Linked DNA regions of Homo sapiens. The protein of the gene in region 2 purifies or fractionates together with the protein of the main gene of each other region. This does not show direct contact. Each region holds a gene or a part of one and is shown on either strand. Other genes may lie near its edges. The genes, in order: POTEF, BTN2A1, SLC25A30 and DENND6A.

Region 1 (4,218 bases), on a different chromosome or scaffold from region 2:
TCCGGGAGCTCTGTCCCAGGAACATTTCACATTTCCATTGGCCAAGGAATGCTGGTGGGGGTAGCTGGAGGCCCCAGTTGGGAGGTCCTGTCCAGTGAGGTGGAACAGGATCAGGGGCCTGCTTACAGAAGCAGTCTGGCCATGATTTGGTAAAGCAGCTATGCTGTGCTGTGGGATCTCTTCTGTCCCTCGTCGGTTTGTACTCTCCAAAGCCCGCAGGCTGGAATGACTACGTTGCCTGAACGGGAAAGATGGCGGCCTGCCCCGTCTTTTCTCTCAGAGTTTTATCTTGTTTCGTGGAGCTTAATTTTTAGCCTGTTGATTTTACTGTCTTCATTAGACTTGTTGAGAAAGAATCTGTTCTCTTTTAGGTGAGATAAATGAGAATTCATTGTCTTCTGTAAATAAACCTGTTCATGTCTTGTTCTCTGGAAAGAAGTCTCTTTCAGCTATCTGACTTTGGTCACAATCATGTAGAGCAGCAGCCAGTCTACAATGACGTAATTGAATTTCCATTTCCAGTGTTTCCTCGTTGTGTCTTACATTGTCCAGTTCAGAACTGAGCATTTTATTCTCAGTTGTCAACATGCTAAGCTGTCCACTGTACTGAAATACTGTGCTTCCTCAATTTGTTTTAAGGTGTGCACTTTTATCCAACTCTCCTCAAGTCAGAGTACAGGTAAGCCCTGGCTGCCTCCAGCCACTCTCAGGGAGACCAAAAGCCTTCATACACCCCAAGTTGGGGTACAAAAGAGGGGGGCCACGAAGGCTGATCATTCAAAATAAAACAAAATTAAAAAGTATTAAGGCGAAGATTCAAAAAATTTTGCATTATGTAATTTGCACAAAAGCAATGCTATCACCTCCCCTGTGTGAACTAGGGAGAGGACTGGGCCATTCTCCTTAGAGAGAAGTGGGGTGGCTTTTAGCAGGGCAAGGGGCTTCCTGAAACAATGCGTCTCACAATATTTGGAATGACTATTGAAAAGAAGAACAAGGTACAATCAAAGTCCTTGGCCACATTGTAGAACTTTGGAGGAAGCTTCCTCCAACCGACTGCTGTCACCTTCACCATTCCGGTTTTTAAATCCTGAGTCAAGCCAATAAAAAACAAAACAAAAAATGAAACAAGAAAACAAATAAAGCCATGCCAATCTCATGTTGTTTTCTGAGAAGTTTGGTTTTGTCAAGAAAGGGTGTAACGCAACTAAGTCAGAGTCCACCTACAAGCATTTGCGGTGGACAATGGAGGGGCCTGACTCATCATACTCCTGCTTGCTGATCCACATCTGCTGGAAGGTGGACAGCGAGGCCAGGATGGAGCCACCGACCCACACGGAGTACTTGCGCTTGGGAGGAGCAATGATCCTGATCTTCATCATGCTAGGCGCCAGGGCAGCGATCTCCTTCTGCATTCTGTGGGCCATGCCAGGGTACATGGTGGTGCCGCCAGACAGCACTGTGTTGGTGTACAGGTCTTTGCGGATGTCCACATCAGACTTCATGATGGAGTTGAAGGTAGTTTCATGGATGCCACAGGATTCCATGCCCAGGAAGCAAGGCTGGAAGAGCGCCTCGGGGCAGCGGAACCGCTCGTTGCCGATGGTGATGACCTGGCCATCGGGCAGCTCGTAGCTCTTCTCTAGGGAGGAGCTGGAGGCCACCGTGGCCATCTCCTGCTCGAAGTCCAGGGCAACATAGCACAGCTTCTCTTTGATGTCACGCACGATTTCCCGCTCGGCCATGGTGGTGAACCTATAGCCATGCTCGGTGAGGATCTTCATGAGGTAGTCAGGCAGTTCCCGCCCAGCCAGGTCTAGGCGCAGGGTGGCATGGGGGAGGGCATTCCCCTCATAGATGGGCACAGTGTGGGTGACCCCGTCACCAGAGTCCATCACGATGCCAGTAGTACGGCCAGAGGTGTACAGGGACAGCACAGCCTGGATGGCCACGTACATGGCTGGGGTGTTGAAGGTCTCAAACATGATCTGGGTCATCTTCTCGCGGTTGGCCTTAGGGTTCAGGGTGGCCTCGGTCAGCAGGACGGGGTGCTCCTCGGGAGCCACACGCAGCTCGTTGTAGAAGGTGTGGTGCCAGATCTTCTCCATGTCATCCCAGTTGGTGATGATGCCGTGTTCCATGGGGTACTTCAGGGTCAGGATGCCTCTTTTGCTCTGGGCCTCCTTGCCCACATAGGACTCTTTCTGATGCATGCCCCCCATCATGCCCTGCTGCCTGGGGCGCCCCACGATGGAAGGGAAGACAGCCCGGGGGGCATCGTCGCCCGCAAAGCCGGCCTTGCACATGCCAGAGCCGTTGTCAATGACGAGCACAGCGGTATCATCATCCATGGTGAGCTCATTCAATTGTAGAGCCTTTAAAAGATTATCATTCCTTTTTTTCACACTTTCAATATCCTCCAAATATTTCTTTTCTCTTAGCTGGCTCTGATGTTTCATTGTGTCTAGCTCCAGTCTTAGCATGGCAATTTCTTCCCGCAACGTACTATTTTCATGCAAGATGTCTTTTTCTTTCTTACAACTAAGAGAAAGCTAAGTAAACAAAGAGAACTTTTAGTTAGCACTCAATAGATTGACATATCATGATTTCTTCTGAAATTCAAAAATAACATGTATTTGTATAATGAAAGAATCCCCATAGTGGATATTTAACTGGAAAAAAATTGGACAAAACTTCAAACCTAATAAGAGTGTAAATTCCTCCAGTGATTTATTTTTCATCGTCTTTAAATAAATATTTAAACTTTTAGGAATCTGCTCCTAAATTCCTAAAAGTTTAAATATTTATTTAAAGACGATGAAAAATAAATCACTAGAGGATTTTTAAGAATCCCAGAATTAAAAAAAGCCTTTTTTCTGAGTTACAAAAAACCCAGAGGCATAAAATATAAGATTAATAATTTGACTACATTTTTAAGATTAGGTTTACACTCTGATATCTAACCTATCAACCACACCATCCTAAGAGCCTTAGCTATGCATATATTTGGACAGAAGCAATTTCTCAAAGTTCTTTAAGTTTCTTTTACTTAAGAACGTTTTACCGATATTCTACATTTCTAATATTTCTATACTCAGTTATAAGAATTACATTTATTTATAACTGTCAAATAAGCACTGTACCCTTCTACACTGTACACATCTGTATCTAGGCATTGCTCTTCTACATATAATACTGAACTCATTTAAGATCGCGATTCTTAAAAGGAGAGGTCAAAAAATATACACAGATGCAGGATTTTCCCCAGGTCTGCTGATGCTACTTCTAGTGATCCTCCACAAAACCACACTTACTTCTGTGGTGTAAATATATAAATACAAAAGAAACCTTTTGTTTCAAAATATGAATGGTAAATAAGATACAACTTATAGAGATTTTCTTAGAAATCATGAGATTATTTGCCATTGCGGTAACTTTTATTTCCTCTTTATAATGTTTGAAACAGTAGTAATGGTGAAATAGGGGAAATATACTGAACTATTTCTCCAGAAAGAAAATACTTATCAATAAATTATTACTAAATGTGTATCATGGCATGTCATTCTTTTCAAACCTCTTTACATTGAAATGAGAAACTACTTGGAGCAAACTGTTCCTCTCTGCAAAAGTAAGGATAATGGTATCCACAATGTGGCCTCTGACCCAGCTATACATTTCCTACTTTCTTATCAGTAAAAATAATCAATTGACTTCTCTATTAACATTTTTTAAAAAACTAATGTCCAAAAACGAGAAAATCTGTTTTCAGTAGCAAAACTTATTTCTGATGTGGAAAGATCATCAATTCTTATGAAAAATATCAAATACTTCTCCTTTGGATTGAGGCCATTGTGCAGGTCACTACTCAACTGTTGCAGGCAAATGAAGGTGAATTAAGAACATGGCTTTATCCTATACGTACGTATATAGATATATGACAAAGGATATATAGAATATATACACACATATATATGACTTAAAAATCCTTTATATTTCCAAAATACAGTTCTTTAAAATATACACACATATAAAAACATTTGAAAATAACTAAAGAAAATACCTCAGAATTCATTTTTTCAACCACTTCTATCTGCTTTTCTTCATGAATCAGAATCTCATCGTGTAATATTCCAGTGTTCTGTTCTTCACAAAATTGCTTCTGAGTATCATTTTGTTCGTCACTAGAAGAAATTTTAATTTTCATGAAATACTGGAGCT
Region 2 (8,022 bases):
CCACCACAGATTATCCTGCACCTTAAAGGCTTTTTCAGTCCTCAAATATATCTTTTTTGTTGTTGTTTAATTTTTGATACAGAGTCTTGCTCTGTCGCCCAGGCTGGAGTGATGTGGTAAGATCTCGGCTCCCTGCAACCTCTGCCTCCTGGGTTCAAGCAATTCTTGTGCCTCAGCCTCCCAAGAAGCTCAGATTACAGGCACACTCCACAAAGCCTGGCTAATGTTTCTGTATTTTTAGTAGAGATGGGGTTGCACCATGCTGGCCAGGCTGGTCTCGAACTCCTGGCCTCAAGTAATCCACCTGCCTCTGCCTCCCAAAGTGCTCGTATTACAGGTATGAGCCACCACGCCCAGCCCAAATATATCTTTTAAAGCATAATACACTAACCCCAAAACTGAAGTAATCACTTAATGTCATTTTAACAAATTCCTAGAAATCCCAGTTTAAATGCATTTTTATGTGGAAGGCTTCCCTATTACCTCCCAGCAAAATTCGTAGTCTTTCTCTATGGAGTTAGCAGGAACTATATATAATTTTGCTTCTGTATTTCGTCTTGGTTTAATAAAACCATCTATTTACAATAAGTCACTCTCTCTGCAATCAGCATTTTGGGAAAGATGAAGTAAAGATTAATATTTATCAAGAAATAAGATTTGATATGTTGTAGTTCTCTGGGTAATCAGTTTATTCCAGTTGTCTTGGAACAATTATTGACAGTGTCTCCTCTCACTCTCAGAAGTGCAACCTGGGAGGCAGAGGTTGCAGTGAGACAAGATCGTGCCAGCGAGGGTACAACAGAGCAAGACTCTGTCTCAAAAAGAAAAAAAAAACCCAAAAGAAGTGCACAGTTCAATCCTAAGGCAGGTATAAGACTTCTCTTCCGAGACTGACCATTTTCCCCTGCTCACGGCCTCAGCTGAATTCTGCATGTGCTTCTCAAGAAGTGAAGCCCTTAGCTTAGCAGGGCAAACCCACTCATGTGTCCCTTGTGCAGGAGGAAGGATTTTTCCCTGGAATTCCGTTTCCACAGGGAGAGTGGAAAAGGGAGTCCAGACAAAAATTTGCTGGTCTGCAATGGGCCTGAGGTTAGGAGAGAAACTTTCCCCAAAGTCACACTGTGCCAAAGTAACAAAGCAAAATGAAGCGACGCACCTGCCACTACGAGGTGCAGGATGGCCTCATCGTAGGACCTGCCTTCTTGGAAGTAACAGCGGTAGGTGCCGTTTTCCTGGGCTGTGATGTTGTGTATGACCAGGGCCACGCTGCCCCTGCTGATGTCTTTGCTCACAAAGGTGGTTCTTCCTCGGTACTCCTCCATCTGCTCCTCTGTTCTCTCTCTGCCACCTTTATACACAAACACTGCGGGGGAGAACTGAGACCGGAACCACCGCACCTCCATGTCCTCAGCATTTTTCTCGGGTGACAGATGGCAGCGTAACGTAGTGTTTTCTCCAACCGTGGCCAAGATGGGATCAGTGGGCCCCACGACAATAAACTGGGCTGTTCAACAAAGGGGTAGAGTCAGACAAAGACACCAGCCATCACATCTCTAAGGCAAGAAAGGAAGCAGATATTCTAGGGACAAACTTATTTTTTCCATGGCCATAGGGTCTCTTTGGGCTGAGAAATCTGGGGACCAGTAGCTGTGGCTAGTCGACAGCACCCCTGGGAGCAGTAACTATAAAGTGTGCTTCTGCTTCATGAAGGAAACCCTGAGGAACCTGCCCTGAGCACCCTCTGTCCACCCTGTGCCCTTGAGGGGATTTTCCTCGATTTCCCAATCTAGTGCTGTGCCTGAGTGTACTGTAAACTTGAGCCGTGCAATAGGACACATATCCACTAGCTAGTTCCAACTGAAATGAGCTGTAAGTGTAAAATACACACAGGATTATGAAGATTTAAAATTTCAAAATGTTGACTATCTCATTGGTAATATGGTATATTAACTAAGTATTTAAATATTCGTATTTGATTATTTGGGGCGAAACAAAATATAGTATACAAATTTATTTCATGTTTCTTTTTACTTTTTAAAATAAAAAGTAAAATTTAATTTTTTTTGAAAATTTGCAATTGTACATGCACTCGGCCTTTGTGCCTCACTGTATTCCTTTTGGACAGTGCTGGTATAAATTCAATGAACATGTTCAGAATGAAAGGGTAAGTCAACAACTCCACAGTCCTTCTTTCTTTCCCTTTGCAGACTACAGGGTTGATGTTCCTTTCTGATAGGTGACAGCAGCAAGTGGCACACATCCCTACCTGAGACCAGTGCACACAGGCTGAGGAGGAGGAGGAGGAGGGAGGCTGGCCGGGAGAAGTGCAGGGCAGCAGCTGATTCCATGAGCACCCAGAGCAGGCAGGGACAGGAGGCCTAGGGTTACAGAGGAGAATCAGCCTAGGAGTCTTGGCACCTCAGTGCTGGTCGGGCCCAACCTCTCCCGTCACTCAAGTAGGTCTCATCAGTGCCCCAACTTCAGGGAGTCCCCTGCATCCGAAGGCTCAGGTATGTCCCGAGAGAGGGATTCCTTAAACATTCCATGAAGTAAGCCATCAATGCCAAGATCAAGGGGGCCTTTTTCCGCCCTCCTCGGCTCACTTCTCTGGCCAGAATGCAGTTTCTTCAGTTGTCGCTGGATTCTACCACACCCTCCTCCCTTCACTTCCTCCTCCCCGCGACCCAGGCCGGGCAGCCTGAGGCAAAGACAGGCGAGGCCGCGCCTCCCCACCGGTGGGCTTTCCCTGTCCCAGGACCCCGTCTCGTGTCCACAGCAGACCCCGCTTCCCCCACCTACTGTGCCCACCCCGGAGCTGTAGCGCCTCCCCTCCGTTTCCTACCTTCTAGAATTAAACGTTGCTTTTTCTTTTCTCCGCTGGTTCTCGACGATTCTCCAGTCGTCCCTCTTCTCTCCAATCTGCCCAGGGGCACAGGCACTACTAGACACAAACCTTCCCAAAAGAGGAGAAAAAATTGTTCTTCCCCTTCTCCTAGGTCGCCATGTTTGGAGATGCAGGAAACGAAATCTGGTCTCCTGGGCTTCCACAGTCCCAAGAGTTCCCTAAGTATTTTAGAGCCCAGGATTGGCCGGGTGTGAGTGAACCAGCCAATGGTGTCGAACCTTATTTCTCAGCAGTTGCTGGGTAGAATACACCGAATCACAAATTTCAAGCAGCAAATAACCTTTTGAGATTATCGGGTCTTTTTATTTCCTTTTTCTTTGTTCGAAAGCAAGACTCTCTCTCTCTCTCTTTCTCTCTCAAGACTCTCTCTCTCTCTCTCGCTTTGAGATTCCTTGGGGAGATTCCCTGGGGTTTGTCACTGAGGTCGGTGGCTTTGCTGGTGTCCACAAGGAGAGGCCTCTCTATGTAGAGGGCAATTTTGCTGGGGAGGAAACATGAGCAGGAAAACGTAAGCCGCCCCCTTTCCAAAGCCAGAGGACTCCTGTTCAAGTTGCTGGCTTTGGAGGTTGGGCCTGGAGCGCAGGAGGGCTTGGGGGAAGCTGGCATGGCTGGAGCGGGAGGGGTAGCAAAGGAAAGGAGACAGCAGTTGCAGTGGCTGTTATGAAGGCCTTGCCATTCATTCCAAAGCTATCGGATAAGAGGTGCTGAGAATCCTGACTGAGGATCAAAAACCTTTTCCCTCAGGGAGGTGGCATTCTGGTGGTGGCAGAAGATGGAATTGAGCAAAACTTTCTAGTTGTCCTTCACCTTCTAGATAGTAGGTGGTCAGGTTGGGTCCAAGAGCCACACACAGACACACACACTAGCACACATACCATCCTCCCGTAAACATCATCCCTCTCCCAAAGGCTCCAATCTTGTAATTGTAAAGATATCTTCCAGAATAATCTTCCCGAGGCCCAGTTGTCAATATTCCCCTCAAGTGTCTAAATGCTTAGTCTGGAGGCCTCCAATTCCCTTCTGATTCAATTCAAAACTTTGCAGTTAATACGCTAGCAATGGCTCCACAGTGGCCTTGCATCACAACGTTGCACTCCCTGTGGCCAGTGCTCCTTTTCCCATGCCATGGCTTTCATTTCAATTGCTTGCTCCATCTCTGCCCCGTGAAATCCTGCCCAGCCTTCGTGCCTACTTCCTCCAAGAACAACTCTGAATGTTCCTGCCTGAAGTGTTCTCGGCCTCTTCTGACACCCAAATCTTTTGCTGTTCCCACGTCCTGTCTTGTATTATTGTTACTCAGGTATCCACTGTGTCTCTGCTGTGACAGGAGTACCTGCTTCTCAGGACAGACTTCTGCAGGATGTGATTCCTCTCACCTTACAGGGCCCAGCTCTAAGCTCTAAGCTCTGCTCTTAGCTGTTGTTCAATGCATGAGTGACATGCTCAGGGTAAGGTCATTCCCACCACATCATGGCCCAGTTCCTGGAGTCATTTGGCACCAGAGTGCGAGAGAGAGGTGCTAGCAGGATTAAGCCACTCTAGGTCAGGATTTCTAGGACTGGAAAGGAGGAACCAGTAGGTTCCTTCTGCAGAGAAAGCTCTTTGATGAGAATAAGCTAAAGAAAGCTCTGAGAACTCTTTTTTCCATTGGACTGACCCTTAAACTGTCTCTTTCTCATACAGTAGTCTCACACGTCACCTGATGTTTCTGGATTATAATTCAAATAAGATTCTGGGTTGAGTGGCTTATGAGGGTAAATACATCAGTATTAGAACTGTATGTATATGAATTCCAAACAGGACTGGGCAGCTGTTGAGAAGAGGCAGAAGAGAAGGATGAAAGGGTCTAACAGCATGGCCAGCCAGGATGAGATCTGACTTTATATTTTTTTACCTGAAGAAATAAGGCCCAGGGCTTTGAAGTAGCCCTTTTGCCAGAAGCATCCAGCTAAGCCAGGCTTCAGCCTCTGCCAAAGTTGATCTGAGCTAGAGGGAAACGTGTGTGTTCTGAGAAGGAAGAGGATCAGTTGACGATGGGGTAGCTTAGAAAGAAATCAGGCTCTACTGGGGTGTGCCCGGTTAGATAGTAACAACCTAACCCAATCATGCTCTGTAGTGGGAGGGATAGAGACAGGAAGGGTCACGTTGGCAAGGTTCTTTATGGACCTGCCAACCCTGGAAGAACCAGGATACAGGGTAAGCATTGATTTCCTTTTGCTTTACAATAAACTACAGTCTGTGAAGGTAATATAGCTGTGTCATCTCCAGCTATGGAGTACTCCCAGGGGAGGCCTAGACATGTTGACATACAGAAAATCCATTCCTACTCTGCCCTGTTCAAATTCTAGATTCCTGACTCACAGAATCACTGAACATATTATAATAGTTGCATAAGCTTCTGAATATTAGGACTACAAGCAATATTAACGAGTACATTTATCTTGCCTCAAAAGAACACATTTTTTCAAAAAGAAGAAATGATACTGGGCTTCTAAAAGAACCAAACGTGAGAAATTTGCCTAAACTCTTTCCATCTTGTAGCCTTCTCTCTGCTCATCTGCTTTGGTCTTCTCTGCAATCCACCATTGTTTAGTCCACACCATGAATGGAGCATTTCTTCCCACAGCTCCCATGCACATCTGCTACAGGAGTAACTAGCCACATGTCACTTGGTCCTCTGGCCTAGCCTGGGTCAGGTGTCCATCCCAGACCCAGTCCATGTGGTGAGGCTGCAGGGCCATGTGATGTGGGCATGTATTGGAAGAGAAGAGGTCACTAATGCTAAATGTGGTACAGCGAGGGCAGAGAGACCTTGAAAGGCATTCACTATATTCTCAGAGGCAGAGCCCTTATAACAGACGCTGTTGATGCCCCATCCCATATTCTCTTGGCCTATCACAGTTTGCCAATAGCTGAGGCACAGTTTTCTGCAAGGATGACAACCTTTCCACCTCCAGTGAGTATCTCCCTTCTCCTTTGCCTGTGAGCTTTATCACACCCGTGATAGTTGCTTTTCTGCAGTTACATAGCCCAATCTTAAAGTGCATTAGAATTAACACTCCCAGGCCAACCTTCAACCAATTCAAGCAAAGGAGGATGGGAAGTGGAGATAAAGTCCCAGGCCCTGTAGTCCTTAGGAAGATTCTGAGCTATATCACACATTTCATATGGTTTCTTAGAGAGTCCTAAAAGGGATTCAGCCAAGTTATCCACATGGTAACTGACTCATGAGTGAACCCTTTATCCCATTTGTCATGTAATTGGCTTTTTTTCATTTCTCAATTTGTTTCTGCACTTGTGTTTCCTGGAATCACTTCCCAAATCAGTGTGGTGAGCTGAATAGTGCTCCCCGCACCCACCCTTTGAGCTATATTCACTATGAAAGTTATGAAAAGAATGTATAACACAGTAAAATGAATTTTACACAGAATTAAGGTTATGGACCTTAAAATAGAGAGATTATTCTAAATTGTCTGGGTGATCTCAGTTTAATCATAGGAGTCTTTAAAAGTAAAAGGCAGACTGAGCGTGGTGGCTCATGCCTATAATCCCAGCACTTTGGGAGACCAAGGTGGGCAGATTGCTTGAGCTCAGGAGTTTGAGACCAGCCTGGGCAACATGGCAAGACCCTGTCTCTACAAGAAAATACCCAGGCATGGTGATGTGGCTCTGTGCTCCCAGCTGCTTGAGAAGCTAAGATGGGTGGATTGCTTGAGCCCAGGGGACAATGTGGTGAGCTGAGATCACGCCACTGCACTTCAGCCTGGGTGACAGAGCGAGTCCTTGTCAAAGAAGAAAAAAAAAAAAAAAAGAAAGGAAGGAAAAAAAGGAGAAGGTAAAAGAATCAGAGAGACACAATGGAGAAAAAGACCTAGGAGATGAGCCTCAATGCGCTGTTGCTGCTTTGAAGATACAGGAAGGGAGCTAGGAGCCAGAGTGTGGCAGCCTCTAGAAGTGGGTACAGCCCTTAGCTAAAAACCAGGGAACAACTGGGACGTCAGTCCTATAAATGAAAGGAACTGATTCTGCCAATAGTCTGAATAAGCAAGGAAACAGATTCTTCCTTAGAGACTCCAGAAAGGAATCCAGCCTGCAGACACCTTGATTCTAGCCTGGTGAGATCCCTGTGGGACTTCTGACTTCTCACCTACAGAACAGTGAGATAATAAATTTGTGTTGCTTTAAGTTCATGAATTTCTGAAGCCAGGCGCGGTGGCTCATACCTGTAATCCCAGCACTTTGGGAGGCCGAGGTGGGTGGATCACAAGGTCAGTAGATCGAGACCATCCTGGACAACATGGTGAAACCTCGTCTGCACTGAAAACACAAAAAATTAGCCAGGCGTGGTGGCACGCACCTGTAGTCCCAGCTACTCGGAAGGCTGAGGCAGGAGAATCACTTCAACCTGGGAGGTGGAGGTTGCAGTGAGCTGAGATCGTGCCACTGTACTCCAGCCTGGGAGTACAGTGGCACAATCCAATCTCAAAAAAAAAAAAATGTCTATACATTTCTGGTAATTCAGATGGCAACAACAGAAAATGCATCCAATAAGGGTCTTGTGAAAATGCTGCAGTGAGGTAAACTGAGACTGTGGTGAGTACAGTGGGTGTGCAGACTACTGTGCTGAGTAGACACCACAGTCTAGAAAAAGCCAAGCTGAGGAGTAAGCATTATTAACACATTTATTGAACAACTAGAACTTGACAACCACTTGCCAAGTAGAGGGGATACAGTGGTGAGCAATAATAGTGATGATAATGAGGAGCAGTTTTCCCTAGCAGGCAGCAGTTGAAAGGAATATGGGTTTAACATCCACCAATGACCAGGAGTGGACAGACCTATTTCCAGGAGACTGAGTCCATAGTGGGATTAAAAACATCCCTGTAATTCTTTTAGCTTCCTTGATCCAAATTTCCTATATCACAGAGAATCTCTAGGGTATTTGCTCTGCCTGGAAACCTTGATTGAAGGAAGGCTGGCTCTGGCTGCACAATCACTTATCACATTTGTTGGGTGGGAACATATCTGTGCCCCATGATTTATCAAGTGTGGCCTCTAGTCTCTTTCCAAGTCACATGTCATGTTGGTACTATGAGGTTATTCTCTCAACCAAGACA
Region 3 (7,889 bases), on a different chromosome or scaffold from region 2:
GTGGGGGGCAGGGCAGGGAATTCTATACATTCAGAATAAATATAGAATTTTCCAGCAGAGGAAATAAAAAATTTTATTTTTAAAAATGTTAGCTGTTGGCCGGGTGTGGTGGCTCAAGCCTGTAATCCCAACACTTTGGAAGGTGGAGGAGGGTGGATCACTTGAGGTCAGGAGTTCGAGACCAGCCAGGCCAACATGGTGAAACCCGGTCTCTACTAAAAATACAAAAATTAGCTGGGCATGGTGGCAGATGCCTGTAATCCCAGTTACTCGGGACGCTGAGGCAGGAGAATAGCTTTGAACCCGGGAGGCAGAGGTTGCAGTGAGCCAAGATGGCGCCACTGCACTGTGGCCTGGGTGACAGAGCGAGACTCCATCACAAAAAAAAAAAAAAGAAAGAAAGCTGTTGGTGCCTGGCTGAATAATTTTTTTTTTTTTTTTTTTTTGAGACTGAGTCTCGCTCTTTCACCCAGGCTGGAGTGCGGTGGTGCTATCTCAGCTCACTGCAACCTCTGCCTCCCAGGTTCAAGCAATTCTCCTGCCTCATCCTCCTGAGTAACTGGGATTACAGGCACGTGCCACCACGTCCAGCTAATTTTTGTATTTTTGGTAGAGATGGGGTTTCACCATGTTGGTTAGGCTGGTCTCGAACTCCTGACCTTGTGATCTGCCTGCCTCCGACTCCCAAAGTGCTGGGATTATAGGCATGAACCACGGCGCCCGGTCCAAATTTTTTAAAGTTAAAAACAAAACAGGCCGGGCACGGTGGCTCATGCCTGTAATCCTAGCACTTTGGGAGGCCGAGGCGGGTGGATCACCTGACGTCAGGAGTTCGAGACCAGCCTGGCCAACACGGTGAAATCCTGTCTCTATTAAAAATACAAAAATTAGCCAGGCATAGTGGTGGGCGCCTGTAATTCTAGCTATTCGGGAGGCTGAGGCAAGAGAACTGCCTGAACCTGGGAAGCGGAGGTTGCAGTAAGCTGAGACCGCACCACTGCACCCCGGCCTGGGCAACAAAAGCAAAACTCCATCTCAAATAAATAAATAAATATATAAATAAATACAAAAAAAAGTGAAAAATACAAAGTAAAAAAACAACAACAAAAATGTTAGCTGGGCTAGTCACACATACCTGTAATCCCAGCTACTTGGGAGGCTGAGGCTGGAGAATAGCTTGAGGCCAGGGGTTCAAGACCAGCCTGGGCAACAGAATGAGACGACCACCTATACTAAAAAAATCCAAAACATTATCTAGGTATGGTGGTACGCGACTCTAGTCCCAGCTACTCCGCAGGCTGAGGTGGAAGGGGCACATAAGCCCAGGACTTCAAGGCTGCAGTGAGCTAAGACCATGACACTGCACTCTAGCAGCCTGGGTGACAGAGCAAGACCCTGTCCCAAATAATAAATAAAGGTTAAAAACAAGTTTTCTGAATGAAATTGTCTATACAAATTAAGAATTTCAAAGGATTCTCCCTACACTTAGGATATATGCTAAGTTACACATCCTGTCTACATTTTCTCTTACATGGTTGCTTAGTATTTATTTTCACCCACCTGACCTCATGTGTACAGCTGTAAAGGGAGGTAATTAAATATAATACTAGCTGTTCGTACTTTTGAACGCTTTCCAAGTTTCTCTTATTTATTTATTTAGAGGCGGAGTTTTGTTCTTATTGCCCAGGCTGGAGTACAATAGCATGATCTCGGCTCACTGCAACCTCCGTCTCCTGGATTCAAGCGATTCTCCTGTCTCAACCTCCCGAGTAGCTAGAATTAGACATCCGTCACCACGCCCGGCTAATTTTGTATTTTTAGTAGAGACGGAGTTTCTCCATGTTGGCCAGGCTGGTCTCGAACTCCTGACCTCAGGTGATCCGCCCGCCTCGGCCTCCCAAAGTGCTGGGATTACAGGCCTGAGCCACCGCTCCCAGCCGTTTCTCTTATTTAATTCTTGGTAAGTTCTTTCAGTTTTACTTCCTGTTCCCTTTTTAGTCTTAAGTCTTAAAACTGTAATTGCACAGCCTTTAATGTGCTCTCATACATTTATTGTTCCTTGCTGGACCGACTGCCCTTTCAATAATGCCCTTTCATGAACTTTTCCTATTTCCTATTCTTTTTAAAGGTGCAGAAGGAAAACTAAGCTCATCACAGACTTACAAAAAGCCGGGTTTAAAAGAAATCTTCGAAATTATCATCTCGTTTCACGTTAATTAACTGAGCCCGCGGTCACAAAGCTTCGCAACGGCAAAGCCAAAAGCAAGATTCATGCCTTTCAACTTTCTCACTACCCAAGTAGCACCGCAAGCCGAATCCGCAGGGCAGTGCCAACATTGTTTGCTACTCTTGCGCAGAACAAAAATGCTAATCACTGCAACTGCTTTACATGAAAGTGCACCTAGAAAGACTTCAAAACCCAGAGGTACATTAACTTTCCAGGCAAGTTCCTCCCAGCCTGTGTGCCACGAGCGATTCCGAATGTGGTGTGCCCTCTCCCACAGTGCGAAGCTCGCGGGCGCTCAGGCTGCCGTTTGAATGAACGCACGAGTGGGAGGGACGCACAAGCAGGGTTGCAAGCCCGGGGCTCGTTAGCAGACGCGGAGATGCCAGGACGGGCTTCGCACTCGGATCTGAATGACCCTGGAACAGGAATCACCCCACGCCAACAGCGATGGGGGCCCCGCGGCACCGGCCCGACCCAAGGAGGCAGCAGCCCGAGAAGCAGAGCCCTGTCCCCAGTCCCCGGAACCTCGCGCCCCGCCGAGCCCGGCCCGGCCTGCGAAGTGGAGAGCACAGGCAGCCCCGAGCACGCCCGGTTGCAAAGGAGGCTCCTCGGAAATCGCAGCCCAACCTTACCCCAGGCCCGGGTTCCAGGAGCCGCAGAGAAAGCGGGGCCGGCAGGAGGAGGCACGGGCCAGGACTTACCTGGCGGCAGCGGCCCCACACCTCCTCCAACCCGGACTCAGTTGTAACAAGAACCTGAGGCCGCTGGAGAAAAGGAAAAAATGCCGTCGCGGGCGGGGCAGACCCACGAGCCTGCACGCAGCCCCGCGCCGCCCCGCCCCGTCCGCGCAAACACGCGACCTCCTCAGCTCCCATTGGTTTCTGCCAGCACTAGCCACACCCCTGACAGCCCCAGATGGGGACACGGAGGGGCGGGGCCCGTCCCAAGTGCCCCTCAGGATCTTCCCCTGCCGCTGCCTGAGGGAGCTGCCCGGGACTCGGTGACACCTGATGTGGCCTCCGATATCGACTGGGAGGTGGAAGAGAAATTTGGGGAACGCATCGAGAACCGTGGAAAAGCAACCTTCGCAGGGGGCAACCTTCTCACGGTGCCCCCGTGAACCTTCACAGTTGGATGGAAGTAAACTTGCCCTTATTTTTTTATACCCCAGCTTTTAGCTTGAAAATATACAGATTAGCCGGGCATAGCGGCGGGCGCTATAATCCCAGCTACTTGGGTGGCTGAGGCAGAAGAATCGCTTGAACCTGGGAGGCGGAGATTGCAGTGAGCAGAGAGCGTACCACTGCACTCCAGCCTGGGCAACAAAGCGAGACTTCGTCTCAAAAAAAAAAAAAAAAAAAAAAAAAAAAAAAAAAAAAAAAAAAAGCCAGACCTGGTGGCGGGTGCCTGTAATCCCAGCCACTCGGGAGGCTGAAACAGGAGAATCGCTTGAACCCGGGAGGCGGAGGTTGCAGTGAGCCAAGATCGCGCCACTGCACTCCAGCCTGGGCGACAAAGTGATACTCCCTCTTAAAAAAAAAAAAAAAAAAAAAGAAAGAAAATGTCCAAACAGAACAAAAAATTAAAAGAACCGTACTATGAGTAGAAATCTTTACATATATATCTAATATACATATATGTAAATATTTATTTATATATTAATATATAACATTTTTAACGGTATGGCAGTGTTTGTGTTCAAGCATACCCAGGTATATTTTTGTTTTGTTTTGTTTTTAGACAGAGCCTCACTCTTGTTGCCCAGGCTGGAGTGCAATGGCACCATCTCAGCTCACTGCAACCTCCGCCTCCCAGGTTCAAGTGATTCTGCTGCCTCAGCCTCCCGAGTAGCTGGGATTACAGGTGCCCATCACCACGTCCGGCTAATTGTTGTATTTTTAGTAGAGATGGGGTTTCTCCATATTGGTGAGGCTGGTCTCGAACTCCCGACCTCAGGTGATCCGCCTGCCTCGGCCTCCCAAAGTGCTGCCATTACAGGTGTGAGCCACGGCACCCGGCTGTGAACTCATGATTTAAACATATAACTGGGGCCGGGCTCAGTGGCTTATGCCTGTAATCCCAGCATTTTGGGAGGCCGAGACGGGCAGATCACCTGAGGTCGGGAGTTCGAGACCAGCCTGACCAATATGGAGAAAACCCATCTCTACTAAAAGTACAAAAATTAGCCGGACGTGGTGATGGACACCTGTAATCCCAGCTACTCGGGAGGCTGAGGCAGGAAAATCAGTTGAAGCTGGGAGGTGGAGGTTGAGGTGAGCCGAGATCACGCCGCTGCACTCTAGCTGCTGCACTCTAGCTGCTGCACTCTAGCCTGGGTGACAGCGCGAGAGAAAGAAAAGGAAAGGAAAGGGAGGGGAGGCGAAGGGAAGGGGAAGGGGAAGAAAGGAAAGGGGAAAGGAGAAAGAGGGAGGAAGGAAGGGAGGAAGGAAAATGCATATGTATAAAACTTGCATCTGTTGATGCAAAGTGCTACTCCAGGAATCTTTACATCCCTTGGTTCATTCAAGACAAAGAAATGTTATTTCCATTTTACAGATGACAGAACAGAGGTTTCATGAGATAACTGCCCTGTTACAGAACCAGGGCCCAGGGCCATCTCTCTCTCATTTCCTTCTCTTGTGTCTCCAGCTCAGGCCCCAGGTTGAGCTTAAACAATCTCTTTTCTGTGCTCCAACTTGGACTCTAGGTGAGTACCTGGATTTTTGGCCACACAATGTTTTGAAATCAATAAAATTTGGACCCCTTTGAAGTATCCCCTGAATTCTGGCCATAAAAACAAATACAATCCCCAGCCTGTGGGGGAAAGTCATTGGAATGCTTGCCTTTCTAGGGCAGGGAAATAAGTACATGACCCTTTCTACCTCTCTCTCACCTCACCAAGTCCTTTCCAGACTCATGACTGTGTGGTACTACATACAAAGCACTGGATTCCTCCCTTTCCTGTAGAGCTTTTGGACACCCAAACTCTACCATTACCCTAAGCCCCACCAGCCCATGCTAATACTCAGATAATACTTAGAAATACACAGGAATGGCCAGCCTTCAAGTATGAAGATCCCTTTGTGGGTTTTTTTGTGCTTTTGTTTTGTTTTGTTTTTCAAGACAGGGTCTCGCTCTGTCACCCAGGCTGGAGTGCAGTGGCCCAGTCACAGCTCACTGCAGCCTCGAACTCCTATACTCAAGCAATCCTCCTGCCTCGGCCTCCCAAAGTGCTGGGAGTACAGGCATGAGCCACCATGCCTGGCCAAAGATCTTTTTGAAAGAAAACTGAATTTTTTAAAAATTTTGAGTCCCTATAAAATAGATGGTAGTATTTTCAGTGTCCATTATGAAAATGCATATGGAATTTGTGGGGCCCCTGCAGTAACCTTGGGTTCCTCCAAGGGTCTTGGCCCAGGGATTGGAAACTATTTCTCTAGGGAATAGTAACTTGGTTGCAGCAGCATAACCAGTTTAGAAACAAGAATAACAAAAAAAGGCCAGGCGTGGTGGCTCACGTCTATAATCCCAATACTTTGGGAGGCCGAAGCAGGTGGATCACCTGAGGTCAGGAGTACAAGACTAGCCTGGCCAACATGGCGAAACTCCATCTCCACTAAAAACACAAAAATTAGCCGGGCATGGTGCTGCCTGCCTATAGTTCCAGCTGCTTGGGAGGCTAAGGCAGGAGAATTGCTGGAACCTGGGAAGCAGAGGTTGCAGTGAGTTGAGATCGTGCTACTGCACTCCAGCCTGGGCAACAGAGCAAGACTCCATCTCCAAAAAAAAAAAAAAAAAAAAAGAATTAAAAAAAAGTGGTAAGTCCAGAAATATATCTACGAACTATTCAGTGCCAGTCCCTGTTGGAAGCAACTTCTTTTTCATCTATTCTTTGCCTTCAACTTTCCCCCTATTTGGCTCTTTGTGCATGTTTTTTATCTGACTACAGTTAACACACCCAGGTAGCAATATGGAAATGAAGACCTAGGTTCTACTCAATCCTGGCCACAGCTTTATTAGCTCTCTGGCCTTGAGTTAATTAAAGTCCTCAGTTGCAAAATGGAAACAATACCCTCCCTACAGAATGTTAAATGAGGCGACGTGTGCAAAAACATACTTTGTAAAATGTAAGTGCTGTAGAAATATCTTTGAATTCATCTGGCCATGGCACTCACCAGCTTAAAATTCTTCATTGGCTCCCCAGTGTCCTCAAGATTAAGGCCCCTGACCACGTGGTCCTTAGAGCCCTCCAGCCATAAGAATCCAGTTCCCTATCCTCCTCACCCATGCACTTGCCCCTCAATCCTACATTCTAAAGTCTGGCCATATAGGCACTTCTCAAGTAGCTGGGCTTTTATTGCCATTTAGGCCTTTTATTAGCAAACTGTTAGAACAGTAACATCCACACAGCCAAAAGCCCTCACTACACTCCCTTAGGTGGATGATGCCAATCTCTATGAGGAGCTGGGCAGCAGGAACCATTTTTTACCCACATCATGGTTTTCATCATCTTGGCAATTGTGTGTGCACTATATAGTGGCAATAAATAACAAATGCTTTGGAATCAACTACAATTTGATAAATGTTTGTTTAATTACATTAAACTACAGGAATGATGCAGATAATATGGACCTGCGTCTTGTCAAGAATGAGTCTCACAGGTTTTTCTGGATGGTTGGTGCTTGCAGAATGAAAGGGCTTAGTCAGACCTTTTAGGGGTAACATTTGGTGGTTGGCGAAAGGAGGAGGTTGTATCTGACTGAGACATCTGGTCACCTCCTCTCCTTGGCAAAATGCAGAAGCAATGAGCCATTGCTACTCCTAAGAAGAACACCTGGATAGGCCAGTGTTCCTAGCTGGTGTACTGGGAATGAGCCCATAAAATTCTTTATCATTATATTTTATTGCAGCGGTTCTCAATCTGAATCAGATTTTGCCCTCCAGGAGAAATTCACAATGTCTGGAGTTTTTCGGTTGCCTCAACTAGATGCTTGCTACTGGCAAGTTGGTAGGGACCTAGGTTGCTGCTAAACGTTCAACAATGCCCAGGAAGGTGGCAATAGTACTGAAGTTTTAGAAATCCTGTTTTATAGGAATGTTGCTTTGGGCATTTGTTTTTCTTGGTTACAGGTGCTTTGTTGAGAATGCATCTTTTGTGTAAGTCACTGAATGGCTGTATAAAATACTCACAGCTCCCCAAACACAGGGATACTCCCTTTTACCTCTGCAACTTGGCACACACTGCATTGCACCTGCTGAGTTATTTCTCTTGCTAAGCCCTTCTCATCCATCAGGCCTCAGTTTGGACACCATGTCCTCCAGGAAGTCTCTCCTAATCACTAAAAACTGGGTGAAATGGGTGCCTGCCCTCTTTGTGCATCCATGCTGCTATGAGAACAGTTACCGCACTTCAAAAGAATGAGCAGTTTTCTCGACAGTCTTCCCATGAAACAGTAAGCTCGTTGGGGTAGGGACCCAGTCTTGCTCACTACTGTATTCTTAGTGCTCAGCATAGCACCTGGCACTGTGGGTCCCCAATAAATATAAGCACATTTGGAGAGTCTCTATAATTTGAGAGTTGGCAGGAAGACAGAGGTCAGGATGGAGGCTTTGTCAAATTGTCTGTCCCTTCCCATTGATATTACCACAGTTGTAAGTCCTG
Region 4 (7,030 bases), on a different chromosome or scaffold from region 2:
GCTGATTATGAGATTTATAATTAAAATGTCTTTGAAAAGCAGCCAAGTTCATTAGTTTAAACATTTAATAATATTTAAATTAGTATTTATTTAATTTTTTATTTTTGTTGAGACACAGTCTCACTGTGTCACCCAAGCTGGAGTCCAGGGGTGTAATCTCAGCTCACTGCAACCTCCGCCTCCCAGGTTCAAGTGATTCTCACATCTCAGCCTCCCAAGTAGCTGGGATTACAGGCGCGTGCCACCATGCCTGGCTAATTTTTGTATTTTTACTAGAGACGGGGTTTCACCATGTTGGCCAGGCTGGTCTTGGACTCTCGACCTTAAGTGACCTGTCCACCTTGGCCTCCCAAAGTGCTAGGATTACAGGCGTGAGCCACCACACCCAGCCTAATGTTTAAATTAGTAAAGGGTAAGAGAAAATAAACTCTTCCATCATTAATACTAGATGCCTTCTTGTCTTTGGAGAAACTGGTAACATTAAATTTTGAAAATGGAAGGGAAAATAATGAAAATCTATATGACAACTGAAAAAAACCCATCATGTCTATTAATAAACACAATGGGTAGCAAGAAACTTTTTTTTTAAACAATGATCACTCAACAGAATACCTTATAAAATTACGTATCATAATGAAGCTAAGGAAAAGCTTCAAGACTAGCAGCTGAACTGTGAAACATGTAGGACAACAGAAGGCACTACATAAGCATCAATTCCTTCTAACCATAGGACAGTTCAGTCTTTCTGTTCTTAAGAAGATAGCCAGTGTGAATGTTATTTTTATATCCCCCTGAGTTTTAACATGATTGGGCAAAGCAGCACCAATTTAAAAAAATATCTGCAATGCCAGCACTGCAGTATGAAATCACTAATACTGATGGCCCACAAGTCTCTCATAAGAGCACTTTAGAACATGATTAAAAATATAGAAATGCCTTTCGGTGTTTCAGTATTAAAGTGGAACCACCACAGATATCCACTTTAAAAAGTAATGCACTAAAAAGGTCTGTTTATACAATACAGTCTTTCTACCCTGTAACTAGCATTCATGGCAATTTTCCACTCCGCTGCCACTGAGAGATCTCCTTTGTGCGTCTGGTTGAAATGTCAGTATGCTTCATGATGCATAATCCTTTTTGGCTGGAAAATCTTGGCAAATATCATGTCATGCCCGTTTTGAGCAGTATGCCTTGCAAGTCCTCTGGCAATGCTAAGATAATGGCATCTATGTGTGTCCGTAACTTTTCCATAGTGTCAGGTTTCACAGGTAAGTGCTCTCGATCAGCCTGCAACTACATAAGGAACATTTCATAACATTTAAATTATCCTCAGAATCTGTATTAATACATTACATTCTCTAAATAAACCATTTTAAAGGTCTAACAATTAGATACTTTCAGTCTTAGACCAGAAATTACAGAAACTAAAAAAGCAAGGAGCATTCTATTTAAACAATTCGTTATTGAGCTCAATAAAAGGCTTCTATGTAAATTCATAATAATACCTAGAAATATAAGTGACAATGTTTTTATAGAGCTTATTAGATTCTATATACATAACGTTAGAATAATATGGCATCATTATGGTCTGTTTCAGTGACCAAGTATTTTCAGCAGTATCTACCATCAATTGACCAATTTCAAGCCCTCTCATTTAAAAAGTTACTTCTGCGAACTATCATGGGTTGTCAGCTCACATGAGAGGACAATGTCTTCAAAGAAAAGTCAATTTAATCTTTGGCTGTTTTGGCTACATACCAGCTTATTTTTCAGCTTCAAGACAAGGTCTACTGTTTCTACTTCTGTGTGTTTCTGGATCCAGAGAAGTAAGTCCTAGAATAAATAAAGTCCCAAATCAGTAAGTTCTCAAAATAATATTCAAACCTCTCTATTTCAATAGGTAAGGCTACTGTGAAGGAAAGACAAGAAGGAAAAGGAGAACAAAGTATTTAACCCAGATATAGCATTATAGTGCAAGAATAATTCTCATAATATTCTAATAACTGTTAGATAATTTTCTGCATTAGCCAGAATAATTGTCTCATATTTGGAAGTAAAACAAAATGTACTGAGGTGGCTTTTTTAGATCAAGCAAGAAAAACAAAATTGCAGCTCAAACTGTAACAGTAACCCCCACTTCCACTAAGTAGTGACTAATTTATAAGGAACATTAGTTAACAAATCAAGAGAACTGAACATGAATTTACTACTGGATGTACACTTCGTGTTTTCGGATATGCTCTTCCTGGGCTTATGTTGCAGGTGCATTCATCATATTCCTTTTCTCAAAGCCACAGTGACTGGGAGTTTATGAGTAGAAAGTTAACACTGAGGTTAGCACACCTCACATTTAAAGCTAAATATAAATGAAAGTGAGACTATTCCTTTTATTTTCACAAGTAGTTTAATTTAAAATAGGCTGGTAATACAGAACATAAAAAAAAAATCAGTCCGCTTTTTTTTTTTTTTTTTTTTTTGAGACGGAGTCTCGCTCTGTCGCCCAGGCTGGAGCACAGTGGCGCGATCTCAGCTCACTGCAAGCTCCGCCTCCCGGGTTCACGCCATTCTCCTGCCTCAGCCTCCCGAGTAGCTGGGACTACAGGCGCCTGCCACCACGCCCGGCTAATTTTTTTTTTTTTTTTTGTATTTTCAGTAGAGATGGGGTTTCACCGTGTTAGCCAGGATGGTCTCCATCTCCTGACCTCGTGATCCACCCACCTCAGCCTCCCAAAGTGCTGGGATTACAGGCGTGAGCCACTGCACCCGGCCAGTCCACATTTCTAAAAGTGTTAATACTAACTAAAAAAGGTAAATACATCATACAGAAAAAGATGTGGAGTTAGGCTTCTTGGATTAGAATCCTTACTCTACCCAGTAATGTGCTGGTAAATATTTAACAAGTGGTTCTCCAAAAGAGGTCTCTGGTTTGTAGCATTTGCCAATTTCTGTGGTGTAGTACTCCCACTGTAGGCTATTTCAAGCTGCCAACCTGAGGTTACTGAATACAGAGCTGAGAAGAGATGTGCACATTTGGCTCTTGTGAGCCAATGCAAGTGGACTCCAGCACACTGTTGGCTCCACTACTTAGCAGGGATGTGATCTGAGGCAAGTCATTTAACTTCTAAGCCAAAAGTTTCCCATGATGCAGTTCATAACACACCTACCTCAAAGAATCATTGTAAAGATTAAAAGAGATTATCTATATAAAGCCCCTATAATGTCCTTGGCACATAGCACATGATCTAGAAAAGTTAGTCATCATTACTATTTATAAAGAGTGGATAAAGGGTACAATCTTCAACTTCTAAGCATAATTATCTTTATTTTCAACAGTTGTTAATCATTACACAAACACACAGTTTTCGAACCTCTTCACAAAGAGCTTCTAGATGGAGTGCCTCCAATTTTTGGGTCATTTCCTTCCTCCGGGTCTTAAACCAGCCATCAAAATTTGGAGACTTTAGGAAATGCCTATAAAAATACATTTTAAAAAAGTAAAGTTTGATTATAACTTATTTCCTTTCCTCAATACCTTTCCTAGTCAGAGAACCATGTCAAACTTTAGTAGAATTTTTTAAAAAGAATAAGCTTAAGTTTAGCTTTTTGTTTTGCTTTTAAATAAAGCACGACACATGGGTGTAAAACAGGGAAAAAAGACTAACCGGTAAAGTCCAATCCAATCGCCTTTTATTCTAGAGGTTAGCTGAGGTCCTGTTTTCTCAAGTGTTTTCATAAATTCTTCTGGAAGAAACTGTCTTAATTGAGGTGGACTCTAGAAAACAGGACATATAATATTTAGAAATTAGGAGTGGATATGTTCACAGAAGTTAATTACAGTTAGAGGACCCAAATAGATTTGAATATATTCATACCTTCCATGGGGAAATACTTTTCTGCAAAGGCATCAAGCTTGCCACATATCTTTCCTAAAACCAAGAAAAAAGTTAATAAAAGGAGTGTCTTCAAAAATATTTAAACAGACCTACTTAAAAGGAATGGGTCTTTTAAGTTTTTAATCATATGCCCTTTCAATGGACAGCAACAACTCCATCACTCCCCACAAGAGATATAGCTAAATTTAGACTGACTTGGGAAGTCAGATTTCAAATAAAAATTCAACTAAATCTTAGATAAACCAAGGGGACTACATTTTTTCTTTTTTGAGACAGAGCCTTGTTCTGTTGCGCAGGCTGGAGTGCAATGGCATGATCTCGGCTCACTACAACCTCTGCCCCCCGGGTTCAAGCGATTCTCCCGCCTCAGTCTCCCAAGCAGCTGGGATTACAGGCGTGCGCCACCACGCCTGGCTAATTTTGTATTTTTAGTAGAGATGGGGTTTTACCATGTTGGTCAGGCTGGTCTCGAACTCCTGACCTCATGATCCACCTGCCTCAGCCTCCCAAAGTGCTGGGATTACAGGCGTGAACTACCGCGCCCAACAACGCGGTCCATTTTTTAACGATAATAGTTAACCTTACTGAGCAACTATAGGCCAGATAATGCACTCAACATTTTACATGCATGATCTCTTGTAATCCTTGGAATGATCCTATGTGGTAGGTATTATTAGGAAACTGAGGCTTCTTCAAAAGGCTAAATAACCTGACCAAGGTAATACAATTTAGACTTGAAATGAGGTCTACTTGACTTTGGTCTCTGCTCTCTTTTTTTTTTTTTTTTTTTTTTTTGAGACGGAGTCTCACTCTTTCGCCCAAGCTGGACTGCAGTGGCGCTATCCCGGCTCACTGCAAGCTCTGCCTCTTGGGTTCATGCCATTCTCCTGCCTCAGCCTCCCGAGTAGCTGGGATTACAGGCGCCCACCACCACGCCCGGCTAATTTTTTGTATTTTTAGTAGAGACGGGGTTTCACCGTGTTAGCCAGGATGGTCTTGATCTCCTGACCTCGTGATCCGCCCGCCTCGGCCTCCCAAAGTGCTGGGATTACAGGCGTGAGCCACCGCGCCCGGCCTTTTTTTTTTTTTTTTTGAGACGGAGTCTCACTCTTTCGCCCAGGCTGAGTGCAGTGGCGCGATCTCAGCTCACTGCAACCTCCGCCTCCCGGGTTCAAGTGATTCTCCTGCCTCAGCCTCTAGAGCAGCTGGGACTACAGGTGCGTGCCACCATGCCTGGCCAATTTTTTGTATTTTTAGTAGAGACGAGACGGGGTTTCACCGTGTTAGCCAGGATGGTCTCGATCTCCTGACCTCGTGATCTGCCCGCCTCAGTCTCCAAAAGTGCTGGGATTACAGACGTGAGCCACCACGCCCAGTCCATGCTCTTTTTTTTTTTAAGAGAGTCTTGCTGTTGCCCAGGATGGAGTGCAGTCGTGCAATCACAGCCTACTGTAGTCTCAAAGTCCTGGCCTTAAGCAATCCTCTTACCTTCGCCTCCCAAAGTGGCAGGCCTGAGCCACTGTGCCCAGCCTAGTCCATGCTCATAAGCACTACAGTAAAGTTTATTTATTCAAACAAATAGATTTAATGGAATAAATAACTTGACACCCAAAGACCAAGAAATAATATTTCTTTCTAAAATATAACAGCAAAGATCTCCAGGATGCCCTATATAATGTTCATAGATATATTACTTTATATTAATAACTGCAAAAAGTTTCTCTATGATGCAGTTTCCAGAGCAGGGCCACATCATGGTACTCCCTATACTTTAATATGACATCCTTCTGAATTTCTTACAATAACCACATTGTCTAGTCATTTATTCCATAAATATTTGAGTGCTACCATATGCCAGTCTGACGAATTAATAACAAGCAAGACAGATATAGTCCCTGTTATCATAGAGCTACAGCCTCATAGACATTATATCAAATTGTATTCAAGATAAGTATCAGAAAGAAGCTCTACTATAATCTTCTTTTAAGGTGAAAAATGTAGTAACTACATAACATTTCATATAAAGTATATCATTTAAGATTCACAACAGTCTTGAAAAGGTACTTAGGAAAGTGGAATCAGCCATATTTCACAGGTGAGAAAATTGAGGGTCAGAGAGAGGGAGTGACTTACCAAAGTTGAACAGTTAACACTAGAACAGATAATCCAGGTCTCTTGCAAAGGGGTTTATTTTTAATCACTAAATATACCAGGCTGGCAAAACACACAACTTAAGATATGGTTTTGGAGGGCGGGAAAAACATTTATATACCCTTCACCAAATCATTAAATTATGCAAAAATTTATTTATTAACTTACTAATGGAATGATGAAACTTTGTGTCAGTTCCAAAAAATAGCGTCGAAGAATAACACTTTGAGCCTCAGAAGGACGTTTCTGTTGTACACCCTTAAAAGAGGAAATAATGAGAATCTGTATTCTAGTGTTGGAATATAAAACAATGGATAACTATCAGATTCAATTGCTATGTAAATATACATTTATACTTGATATTTAAAAAACTAGAACTTCACCTTGAAGTAATTTAATGTGAAGTTCATTGTGCAATATCCTGTGAAAATAATCTTTACCGGAGCAAAACATAAGAGTTCTTAGCTTAGGGAATACTGTTCATCCCATACTGTGAAAATGTGAGTTCACGGCTGGGCACCGTGGCTCACGTCTGTAATCCCAACACTTTGGGAAGGTGAGGTGGGTGGATTACCTGAGGTCAGGGGCTCAGGACCAGCCTGGCCATCATGGTGAAACCCCGTCTCTACTAAAAAATACAAAAATTAGCTGGGTGTGGTGGCGGGCACCTGTAATCCCAGCTACTTGGAAGGCTGAGACAGAAGAATTGCTTGAACCTGGGGAGGTGGAGGCTGCAGTGAGCCGAGATTGTGCTATTGCACTCCAGCCTGGGCAACAAGAGCGAAACTCCATCTCAAAAAAAAAAAAGTGAGTTCACTATAAAGACAATCTTTATTTTATATTTGCTATACTATACTATTTACATTAAAAAAAATGGTAACAGTCCCCTACTGTTAGATGCTATCATGGTAGAATCTATGGCTTTTTCACTATAATTTCCAAGTTTCTAGAAAGACTGACACTCATGTGTAGCTACAGCCCCAAAT

What was found.
Region 1: the proteins of BTN2A1 (region 2) and POTEF purify together in Homo sapiens (affinity purification with mass spectrometry; 3 studies listed by BioGRID and IntAct, with this or other methods). This does not show direct contact.
Region 3: the proteins of BTN2A1 (region 2) and SLC25A30 purify together in Homo sapiens (affinity purification with mass spectrometry; 3 studies listed by BioGRID and IntAct, with this or other methods). This does not show direct contact.
Region 4: the proteins of BTN2A1 (region 2) and DENND6A purify together in Homo sapiens (affinity purification with mass spectrometry; 3 studies listed by BioGRID and IntAct, with this or other methods). This does not show direct contact.

What each region holds. Positions count from the first base shown.
Region 1 is NC_000002.12:130,073,021-130,077,238, forward strand, and holds the end of POTEF (POTE ankyrin domain family member F), read right to left. Parts: intron 4,182-4,218; coding exon 4,061-4,181; intron 2,553-4,060; coding exon 1,224-2,552; 3' UTR 515-1,223; downstream 1-514.
Region 2 is NC_000006.12:26,452,963-26,460,984, reverse strand, and holds the start of BTN2A1 (butyrophilin subfamily 2 member A1 isoform 1 precursor), read right to left. Parts: upstream 3,031-8,022; 5' UTR 2,843-3,030; intron 2,379-2,842; 5' UTR 2,349-2,378; coding exon 2,267-2,348; intron 1,505-2,266; coding exon 1,157-1,504; intron 1-1,156.
Region 3 is NC_000013.11:45,415,372-45,423,260, forward strand, and holds the start of SLC25A30 (kidney mitochondrial carrier protein 1), read right to left. Parts: upstream 3,003-7,889; 5' UTR 2,929-3,002; exon of another isoform or gene 2,791-2,928; intron 1-2,790. UniProt on the Homo sapiens protein: Antiporter that transports inorganic anions (sulfate, sulfite, thiosulfate and phosphate) and, to a lesser extent, a variety of dicarboxylates (e.g. malonate, malate and citramalate) and, even more so, aspartate.
Region 4 is NC_000003.12:57,627,053-57,634,082, forward strand, and holds part of DENND6A (protein DENND6A), read right to left. Parts: intron 6,303-7,030; coding exon 6,213-6,302; intron 3,927-6,212; coding exon 3,873-3,926; intron 3,773-3,872; coding exon 3,663-3,772; intron 3,472-3,662; coding exon 3,369-3,471; intron 1,834-3,368; coding exon 1,759-1,833; intron 1,294-1,758; coding exon 1,162-1,293; 3' UTR 1-1,161.